Regions from separate parts of the Homo sapiens genome. Here region 2 is linked to region 1. The links come from fine-mapping of genetic effects on plasma protein levels. Region 1 holds a variant in brackets. A gene starts in the other region. All regions are shown on their reverse strands. Region 1 has its middle 58 kb from the start of SLC40A1. Region 2 holds the start of TF (transferrin).

Evidence for each region. A credible set is the group of variants that fine-mapping cannot tell apart. PIP is the posterior inclusion probability: the model's chance that the variant is causal. The UK Biobank Pharma Proteomics Project read protein levels with antibody pairs (Olink). The fine-mapping took linkage between variants from a reference panel, not from the people measured, so its PIPs are less certain.
Region 2: TF starts here. The variant in region 1 is the best candidate, but not a certain one, in a credible set for the plasma level of the TF protein (UK Biobank, PIP 0.82).

What each region holds. Positions count from the first base shown.
Region 1 is chr2:189,520,110-189,525,486 of GRCh38, reverse strand. No RefSeq gene overlaps it. Among named protein-coding and RNA genes, the nearest start is that of SLC40A1, 58 kb to the left of the region's middle. The variant G/A (reference allele first, on the strand shown) is at 2,726.
Region 2 is chr3:133,742,123-133,747,499 of GRCh38, reverse strand. TF (transferrin) reads right to left here and starts at 1,107. Exons shown (of 17, transcript NM_001063.4): 1 at 1,017-1,107. The coding sequence starts at 1,059.

The DNA of each region.
Region 1 (5,377 bases):
TTGATAATATGCAGTTCTCATCTCTGTTCTTTTTCTGGGTTGATCCTTATATTTCTTAAAGCACATGGCCAAAACTACAACCAAGTTTCCATGGAAGAAAGTGTCATAGTTTTATAAATCATTCTAATGCATGTGTGTGAGTTTTTAATTCTCTTGCTATATTATGCCCAGCATTTGCTGGTTTGTTGGCCATAATGAGATTTTTTTCAGTTTGATGTGTCTTTTAGATTCTCTTTAATAGTAGTTGCTTGGAATCATAGGAGAAATTTGGTCAGGATAATCCGGAAGTTTGAAGTAATGGGCAAAAGCACTCAAACTACTGGAGAGAGTGATGAATGAAGCAGACAGGAGGTGATAGAAAGGAGCGGGGTTGCAATCTGAAAAGAAGCTTTTGAGAGATCAAAAAACAGGTCAAGTCACAGGATAGGGAGCGTTGGTTAATTGACAAGATGAAAGGCTTATGATTCTAGAGAAAAAGCAGGAAGTTGGCACGAGGTTGATATAATGAAGGTAGAGTTGTACCTTTTAATAAGGTCCAAGGTTCTTTCATTCAATGAGTGGCCACTGTGGGATGGAGTAGGAGGTCAGGATGATCAACTAGATAGAACTTGTGTGGTAGGGAATAGAAGAATGGTTCTCAACGCTGACTGCACATCAGAACCACCTGGAGAGTTTTAAAGCCTATCAAGGCCCAGGTCCCACAGGCCAATTCAATCAGAATCTGGAGGTGGGGCTAGGCATTGGCAGGTGTGAAAAATCACCGAGTGATTCTTGTATGCAGCCAGAATTGAGGACTCTGGATTTGAACAACTGTTTGCACCTGCAGAAGTTTTTATACTCTTGCTGCTCTATCAGGCCTTATTACCCTTTACCAATTAAATCAGACGATTTGGGGGTAAGATTTTGGCTCTCTGTCCCCATCCAAATCTCATCTCGAATTGTAATCTCCCTGTGTCAAGGGAGGAACCTGGTGGGAGGTGATTGGATCATGGGGGCGGTTTCCCTCATGCTGTTCTTGTGCAAGTTCTCATTAGATCTGAGGGTTTAAAGGTTGAGGCTTCCCCTACTTGCTTGGCGTTCTTTCTCCTGATGCCTAGAAGGTGTCTGCTTCCCTTTCATCTTCTGCCATGATTGTGAGTTTCCTGAGGCCTCCCCAGCCATGCAGATCTGTGAGTGAATTAAACCTCTTTTGTTTATAAATTACCCAATCTGAGGTAGTATCTTTATGGTAGTGTGAACATGGGCTAATATAGTAAGATCTAGGCAAAAGCCATTTAAAAAATTCCCCAGGTGTTTCCAACCTGCAACCAAGTTTAGGAACCACTGGGTTAGAGGGATTGTATCCTGTGATCTACTATGTACCATGAATAAAATGAAATTATATTGTATGATAGCCCTTGTATATTAAAATAATACTTTGTTTTGAAGTTTAATGCACAGAAAGGAATCCAGATGCTACTCTTTGTCTTAGTTTTGTTTTTTGTTTTTTTTTTTTGAGATGGAGTCTCACTCTGTCTCCCAGGATGGAGTGCAGGGGCACGATCTCGGCTCACTGCAACCTCGGCCTCCAGGGTTCAAGTGATTCTCCTGAGTAGGTGGGGTTACAGGCGCCCACCACCATGCTCGGTTAATTTTTGTATTTTTAGTAGAGACGGGGTTTCTCCATGTTGGCCAGGCTGGTCTCCAACTCCTGACCTCAAGTGATCCACCCACGTCGGCCTCCCAAAGTGCTAGGATTACAGGCGTGAGCCACTACACCTGGCCTGTTTGTCTTACTTCTGATGGTTTAGTGCACCCTTCTAATTTAAGAAAATGAGAATGACAGAATTTTGAAAAATGGAGGAGGCCTTAGAGAAGAAGTCACGACCTCTTTTTTTACATATGAGAAATAAGGGGCCCAGAAAGGATAATTTAATTGTCCACAATTTCTTGGGTGGTTAATAACAGAATAGGGTCCCCTGACAGATCATTTTCAATTTTCTTTCTACTCCTCAATGCTGGCTTCATTACAACTCTTAGTTTTGAAGTGATAAACTTTAAAAGGGATATGACTTCATTTATAAAATCTATGGAGTACATGGACAGGGTGAATGTGAACTTGTCCATAAAACTCTAGAACACTAGAAGTAAAAGTTGCCCTCAAAGCCATGAAAAAGTTTATTTTAAAACAAGTAAATTAAACTACTAAAGTATCCCTTAATACCAAACATGGCATTTAAATTAGTGACCATGAGAATCTTTCAAGCCAAAAGAATGGCCACTGGGTAGCCATTCTATGTACGTAGGAAGGCTAAAAGTTTTGGGGTCTTCAGACCTGGGAAAATATGTGAGTTTCATAAGGTCACATGCTAGACTATAAAAGGAAATTTTGCAATCAGTACTTAAGCTCTTAATCATGTGGCTCACATGTTTTCATACTCCCTGAGTTGGTTAGTCCAATTCCTGACCTAGCCAACCTAGAAGAAAACAGAACAAAAGCAGGTCTCTATTGGGAATAAAGTTAACTGCGTATGATTATATTCTGCTTGTTAAATATGCACACTTCCTTGTGTATTCATGGACTTTGGTCGCAGTAAATGATCTTTGCAAAAAATGTCCTGGACACATCCTACTTACACTGAATGACATTCTTTGAGAGGCAGGTTGCTAGTTGCCAACTACAGTGCTTTGTTTCCAGCTGTTTCCCAGCCCATATCTTTCCATTGGCTGTGTTGAAAAGACTAGA[G/A]CATGCTGATGAAGCCTAAAAGCAACTCCAAGGAGGGGAAGTGAATAGATTAGATCATAGAACTTGATTTAGAAAGGTTTCCGTGGGCTGAAATGGGCAGCAAAATCTAAGCAGATGCAATTCCGTGGAGAGAGAAGAGAGGTATAAGTACTTGAACACAGTACATCAGTAAAGGGGGGGAACACACTTGCCTTATGGTATTTGAAGGGCTGTTATTAAAAGAGAGTTTCTAAGTCCAAAGTCCATAGACCATTCATAGGCCTTCAGAACACTGCAATTCCGCAAAGATTGTACAAGTTTTTATTCATGTCTAAATTTTTTTTTCCTGGAGATAAGGTCTGTCATTTTTATTAAATGCTCAAAATAAGAAAAATCAGATTAAACCTAAAAGTTATTAACTAGGGAAAATAAAAGGCAGCTACAGATAGATTTAGTTTCAATGAGAGGAAGAAATTTCTGACATTTAAAGTTGTCCAAACATGGAATGAGCTACCATGGGAGGTTTCAAATTTCCAGGCCATTTGGCAAGAATATCATAGAAGGTATTTAAGCAACAGTGAGTGGTGAAATGTGTTTACATTTCTATAAAACAAACAACTGTGTACATGGAGAGAATGCCTCAGTAAAATTAATGTGAATGCTGGTAGAGTTAGGAATTCTCAGAGCACTGAGGCCCTGAACCAAAAGACCACAAGTGATGACAAGAATTGTGGCTAGTTGGGGGATTGGGGGTACATTTGCCTCCTTTGGGCTGATCCTGGTTATTGATAATTAGACAAAAAGACACCCTAGTGGTTTCATTTTGTCTTTGCACTGTTGGAGGACTTGCTCTACACCTGGGTCATTTATGGTTATCTAATAGATACAGCACCCACAAACAGTTACAATGGGGAAGTTGGTAGAAAAATCAAGGGTGAGAGTATAGTGGTTAAGACCATGGACTGGGGAGATAGGCTGGCTGAATTTCACTCCTGCCTCTTTTTACTAGCTGCGTGTGACCTCGAAGAGGCTGTATAGCCACTCTGTGCTTCATTTCCCCAGATGTGAAATGAGAATGACAGTAGTACCTACATTATAGATTGGAAAATAAATACAAAAAATCATGTAAAGAATTAAAAACCATGCTCAAGAATGGTTAGCTATATGACTGTTGTGGTTTCTAGTTATTGAATGGAGATATTTGAATTATATTACAAACTGTCATTTATTTGCTGTATGATGTAGGGAAAATGCCTTATCTCTCTGGCTTCATGCTTCCCATCTATAAAATGGTGAACACATTTACGCTGGATGGAGATAATATCCAATTTAGTACTGGCTTTAACAACTAAAAGAGTCAAAGTACCCCTAAAGGTCTTACTTAGAAAGCAGAGTTTAACAATGATTTTTATAAGTTTAGGCTTATAGCAGCACATTAATTCTTAGTTTGGGAGCAGTGCTTTAGCTTAGATTTTGAAATCATCAGCAAAGTGTACTATCTGCACTATCATCAAGTTTTGTCAGAGCCTCACCCATGTTTTAAATCTGCTGTCTCTAGAACTCTACCCAAAACTTTTTATTAGAACGTCTTGAGGTATATTTTGTATCTGAAGATTTCAAGGGCTTCACAGTAATTCCTGAGTTGGCCCCTATCTAGAGCTGCGATTCCCAGATCTAGAGAGTTCTGCCTCCCAAGCAGTGGGAGCCTTGGACACCTCCTATCTGATGACTGATCCTCCTCTGCTTGAATCTTTTGGAAAAGAGAGCACTTGCCAGTTGACTAGGGAGTTCATCACACTTTATAGTCTATTTAAAGTTTTCTTTTCTTTTCTTTTTCTTTTTTTTCTTTTTTTTTTTTTTTTTGAGACAATCTCGCTCTTGTCCCCCAGGCTGGAGTGCAATGGTGTGATCTCGGCTCACTGCAACCTCCGCCTCCTGGGTTCAAGCGTTCTCCTGCCTTGGCCTCCCGAGTAGCTGGGATTACAGGGGTCTGCTACCACACCCAGCTAATTTTTGTATTTTTAGTAGAGATGGGGTTTCACCATGTTGGCCAGGCTGGTCTTGAACTCCTGACCTCAGGTGATCTGCCCACCTCGGCCTCCCAAAGTGTTGGGATTAGGCCTGAGCCACTGCGCCCGGCCTATTTAAAGTTTTCTTTTCATCTTAAAATGCATTGTATATATGTACTTAATGTGTAAGAATGTATAAGTCATTAGTTAATAACTGATGCAGCTTCACATTAAGCGCTTTGCTTTTAAATTTAACTTCAAATGCTAAATTAGTAGCATGGGCAAACACACATCAATAAAGTCTATTGGTTTGGACTCTGCTATTTTGAAGTTCGTCATAATTGGCTAGACTGCTGTGTACATTTGCTAAATAAGTTGTCATCTTTATAACACAGATTAATAGCATGCCTAAACATTTAAGAGGCTTAGAAAGAACTGCTTTTAAGGACCTTGAAGTACTGTATAAACAACTACTGAAATGCTAATTATAATTTAGTCTTATCTATTTATCACATTTTTTTCTTGAGAGGAGCCAGAGACTGAAGAGGTTGACATGGTCAACCTTCAAATCTGGGTTCCTGGCATTCCTTGAAAAGAATGATTTTATCAGGTACTTATCTCCTGGCCAGGCTTTTGGGTTTTCGTTTTTTTGTTTTTCTCATCT
Region 2 (5,377 bases), not on the chromosome of region 1:
TCTGAAGAAGATCCACAAAGCCTGTGGAGAGGAGGCCCACAGCTCTCCAGGATGCATGAGGAGGGGCCACCAGGGATGGCCACCCCAGCGACCCCCATTTTCCCTCTTGGCCCATGGGAAATCCTAGGAGGCAACATAAGCCTGTGGCAGCCCCTCCACAAAGCCCTGCCTCCAGAGTTCCCATAGGCGAGAATGTGTCCTCAGTGGAGCATTACCTTGCACAGCCTGTGAAGTGCTCTGTGCGGGGATAAAGGCAAGTAACGTGGGGTCCTCTCTCAAGGAATTGCTAGCTTATGGGGAGAGAAAACTAAACGTGGAAGCCCCAACAGTGTGACAAATGCCCCATGAATGGCAGGCAGAAGTTAGAGTATGAAGGGGGCCCCACCTCAGGAGGTCGGGGAGTGTGGCGTCAGCCACTGCCCCATAGCAGGATGTGTGCAACATCTGCCACTGGTACTCAGCATCTGCCACCTCGCTGACCCTCATTTGACCCTCCCAGGCAAGTGCTGTGATGACCCCCTCCCTGGTGAGGAGCCGGCCAGGACTTGGATCCAAGAAGTCTGGCTTCAAACCCCATGCTCTGACCGCTCGATGGCACCGCTTCCTTGGCAGGACATCTACAGCTCCCAGGGCACCCAGGGGACATCAGCCTCTGAAAGGGGAATGGTCAGACCCGGGAGGCCTTGAATGCCATGCTAAGGAGTTCGGACTTGACAAGAGGCAGCAGCAAAGGGTTTTGATAACCTGGTTAGACGTGCTCTGATTTATTGTATTTCACTGCTGCAAGATTTACTGGACAAAGAGGAGGAGGGGGAGAAGACAGTGAGTGCAGTGAAAGGTGTCTAGAAGCCCAAGCAAAGGCCAGGGGTGGGGCGTAGAGAGGCAATGGAAAGGCACCCAGACACCCAGGCTTCCAGCCTGAGCGCGGAGTGCATGCAGGCTGCGCGGTGGCCGCCCGGGTTGCAGGGAACGCGCGGGCCAGCGACTCTGCGGTGCTACCCCGTGCCCGCACTCACCCAGGACGGCGCAGACCAGCAGGGCTCCCACGGCGAGCCTCATCTTCCGGGTGCGGCGCTGAGCAGCGAGCACAGTCGGACTCGCTTCTGTGCAGCCTCCGGCGCCCCGCGTCCCTTTATTCCATTCCCGGCCTGGGCGGGCTGGGCGCAATCTTTGACCTCCCGTGTTTGTGCAGCCGGGTTGCCCAATCGCCCCTCTCCCAACCCCCCTTCCTTACTCGTCCCACTGATCACCTCATTTTCTGAGCTCTGGAGACGACCCGCGAGTGGAAGGAGTCCAGCACAGAAATGTTGATGGGAAGGGACATGAAGCACAATGCAGCCATTGTCATCGCGGCTCGCTCGGTGCCAGGAGCGGCTACGGCGGGCTGGGAGCCGGGGGGCTCTGCTCCTGACTCCAGGGCTGCAGAGCTGGTCCGTGCCACCAGTCCTATCTGCGCAGTCCACAGAGGAAGACTCCGAGGCTGGAGAGGGAAAAGAACTGCGCCCAGACCCCACACTAGAACTGCAGAATGACAGGCAAAGCCCCTTTTGGGGGAGGATGCAGGAGAAACAAGCTGGGCTCAAGGTCAAAGACAGACTCAGCACCTTTTGCTCCCCACCAGGTGTCCCTCGAAATCCTGCTCCTGGGCTCTCAAAGGTCCCCCACGGAGGAGCTGCTCCCTCTTCCTGCCCCGCTGAGCTCAGGCTCCTGGGCTGGAAAACTTCCCGCCCTCAAGCTTCCTGTGGGACACCTTAGACTAGGGACAGAGTCATAGGGGAAGATGAACTCCCTCCAACAAGAAGGTTCCAGGAACATGGTCAAGACACTGTGAGGCTCAGAACAAAGTGTCATCTTAGCACAAAGCAAGCGGCCCAGTGGACGGTGTGGCCTGTTCTTACAGCCTGGGGCCACCATGTCCCCCTCTAGTCGATGAGTCTCCTAACCAGTTTAATTACACATCCTTATCATGAAAAATATTGAACTTGTGCCTTCTATATGCTTATATTTTAACTAAAAAATGTGTACACTTCAATCATGCACAAGGAATAGAAATTTGTAAAAGGATGAGCTAAAGATGAAACTCATTTTCAAATGTCGTTTTGCTTATGCGGCCTTATACAGGATTATTATCTCAAGGCATAATATACTTGGGGAAAGGTCAAGATTCCTTCCACGAAGTGTAAATCCAGACTTCAGAGATTTTGCCAAAAGTTACTTCTTATCCAACCTGACCAGATGGTCATTCATTCTGTCTCATGTTTTAGTTGACCAAGCTCATATCAAGCCTAGTGGACACGTCAGGTCAGTCATTTGATTTTTGTTCACTTGTTTTTGTGTTGTCAGAATTGTCTCCTAATTCTAGTTTCTTTGTAAGAATCTTTTTAAGGCATGTGTGCATCTCGTGAAGGTTGGAGTTAAAGCCAGATTATCTAATCTGTACATCCGTTTAACTGGGCACATACAAACCACAAAGTATGGAAATAAAAATGCCAAAACAAAGGGCAGGGTCGGCACTCCCCTTTTCACCTTTAGCATTGTGAGGTGAACCCCATCTTCCCTTAGGACACCTGAAAGGCTCCATCTGTCATGACTGCAGACTCAGGTGGGAGATAGGGCCAATTCACACATTCAATATGAATGAATGATAATTTGTTAATCTTTTGCAATAACAATAAATATAACTGGAAGTTAGATTATGTTCTCCCACACTCCAAAAGATTATCTCATATGCAAAGGGGTTACATACCTCCCACTTTAGAGTCCACTACAGAAGCTTTCTGTTTACAGTGAGGACAGAAGTCAAGTCTGGCTTTCCCAACACATCAGCCTCACCAGCGAGGGAGAGTGACCACTGCTGCCCTGTCTTACTCCCCCCTTGCCCGTCCACGGGCCCCTTGTGCTTGAGCCATAGGGAAAGAAGACTGTTAGCATGAGGGCCATATTCCTACTGCCCCTGCAGCAGGCTCTAGGCAGTGGTCTGGATTCATTTGGAGACCTTGAGGTAAGGATGTGAGATGAGCAGGAAAAGTCAGGGGCAAGGCTAACTGGAAGGCACCCAGCAGAGCAGCATGCACACATACAGCTGATGCATGGACAGGCCCTGTAGTAAGCTTGCAGGGTCTGCCAGAGAGCAGGAAGTGCAGTTACGAAAGGTTGAGCCCATGCCACAAACTCAGGGAAGCTCAACGCAGGGCATGGAAAGAAGATGGTCAGTGATTCTCCTTTTCTGGAGCCCATCTACATTCGTAGACTAAGCCCCGCTGAGGCCAGTCCTCCAGCCACAGGCCCATAGCCTAGCCAGAGCCCCTCAGCAGGGAGCAACTACCTACTGGCCAGGCTGAGTCCTCTCCAGAGCAGCCAGCTCTATGCCCTGTCCTCAGAAGGGTCCTTTGAGTCCAAGCCCAAGACAGGTGCTGGGAAGGAAATATACAGCCTCATGGGATATGAAGGAAGCTCAGACAAGACATAGAGAACTGGTGCTCCCACGTCATCTACACACACCTAGATGGAGAGGCCAGGGCCTTGGCTTTTGCTCAAGAGGACAACAGCAGAGCTTCGTGCTTGCCATTCCTTGGATGGGGTAGGCAGGGGTGAGGCCAGCTTTGGGGTGTACATGTGTGCATGGCCCTAGCTGTATGGGGTGCCTATGCCTGTATATGTCTATAGGAGCATGTGAAGGTAAGAGGTTAACATTACAGCGCTCCATGTCCATGACACTTGTACCTGTGCTCTCATTTATATTCTTTAATTCTATACCAGAGATGTTCTGGAGTTGGAGAATCACTGTCCCTTTTAATAGCTTAATGATGGCTGAGATTTACTGGGAGCTTCACTGAGCACTTACCATACCCCTCTGACTTTGGTGCTTTAGCATCTGTATCTTACAGATGAGACAAGGAAACTGAGGACAAGAGAGGATGATATCTTGTTCAAGGTCAGCTGCAAAGTCAGAATACAAAAGAAGGCAGTCTGGTTCCAGAGTGTACACATCCACCAGGGACACTGCCTCTCCCAGGAAACCAGGACATGCAGGGGCCAAGGAGCTCATCTGGGGTCACACCGAGAGAGGGACAGACATGAGACTCCCAGCCTTGCCATTTCTCCAAAAGCACACAGCCCCCAGGGCTTTGCCAGCACAGGGGCTGGTCAGTCTGGGAGAGGTCTGAGTACCAACTGCAGATCCTTAGACATGGACTGGCTTGATTATGCTCAGCTGGAAGAAAATATCATGTTTTTATCCCCTTGTATGTGTCAGGCACTGTCCTGGGGCAAGATCATTGGGGCAGCCATGCAAGATAAGATCAGTACCTCCATTTATCACATGTGGTCATTACAGTCAAATGATGGGTCCTTATTCATGGAGCTCTGAGACCTGAACTCAAACTTCCTAAATCTTGCCCTTCTCCAGACCACAGCTGCCTTCTTGATATTGACCTTCTCTTTATTTATTTAGTGGGGGAGGAAAGAGAGGGAGGGAGGTGAGAGAGAAAGAGAAAGAGAAAGAGATTGATAGAGGACATAAAGGAAGCTTCCAGTTCTAGACCAACCCAAGCATGAGCCAAATCTTTCACCGCAAACAGGGCAAAACTCTCAAATTTCAACCACGAGTTGGCCCTTAAAGAAATAGCTGCGCTTGTGTGTACGTGCAGGAAAGCTGGAAAAGCTGACCAGCAGGAGGTGGGTAAGAAAGCAGTGGGCCTCTGAACCAATATTTGTTGTTTCCAAATGTTGCCCAGTTGACACAGAAGCAAAGCAAACAAAGAGCCTCTGTCTGTTTTGAGCAGTTCCTCCTGTCCCCCACCCAGTGTCCTCTGCCTGACACCAGAGACTTCTCTAAGTCTGGGTCATCCTTGAGAAGCAGCAGCCTGGCAGCCTGAGAACCGACATTCACGAAATCAGTCACCCTGCAAGCCCGCTGGGTCGGGCTGTATGGCTAGGGGGTTGGGGACTGGGCAGGGTACTTTTAGGAAAATGCCAGGCATTTTGAAATGCCACATGACACCACTGCTCACTCGCTCTCACTCTCTCTCTCTTTCTCTCTCTCTCTCTCCTTCTCTTTCCCTTTCTCTATCTCTGTTCTACCTCTCAGAAGTCCTTGGACAATGAAGATTCTCAAGGTTTCCATTCTTTTCACAGGGGAGTCTGCAAAAATACCTGTCTCATGAAGAATAGTCCAGGGCCAGGTGGAATGAATTCCATCAAACATTTAAGAATTACAGCGTGGGGGTGGTGGCTCATGCCTGTAATCCTAGGGCTTTGGAAGCCTGAGGCAGGAGGATTGCTTGAGCTCACGAGTTCAAGACCAGCCTGGGCAATATAGTGAGAACTCGTCTCTACAAAAAATTTAAATCAGCTGGACACAGTGGCATGCACCTGT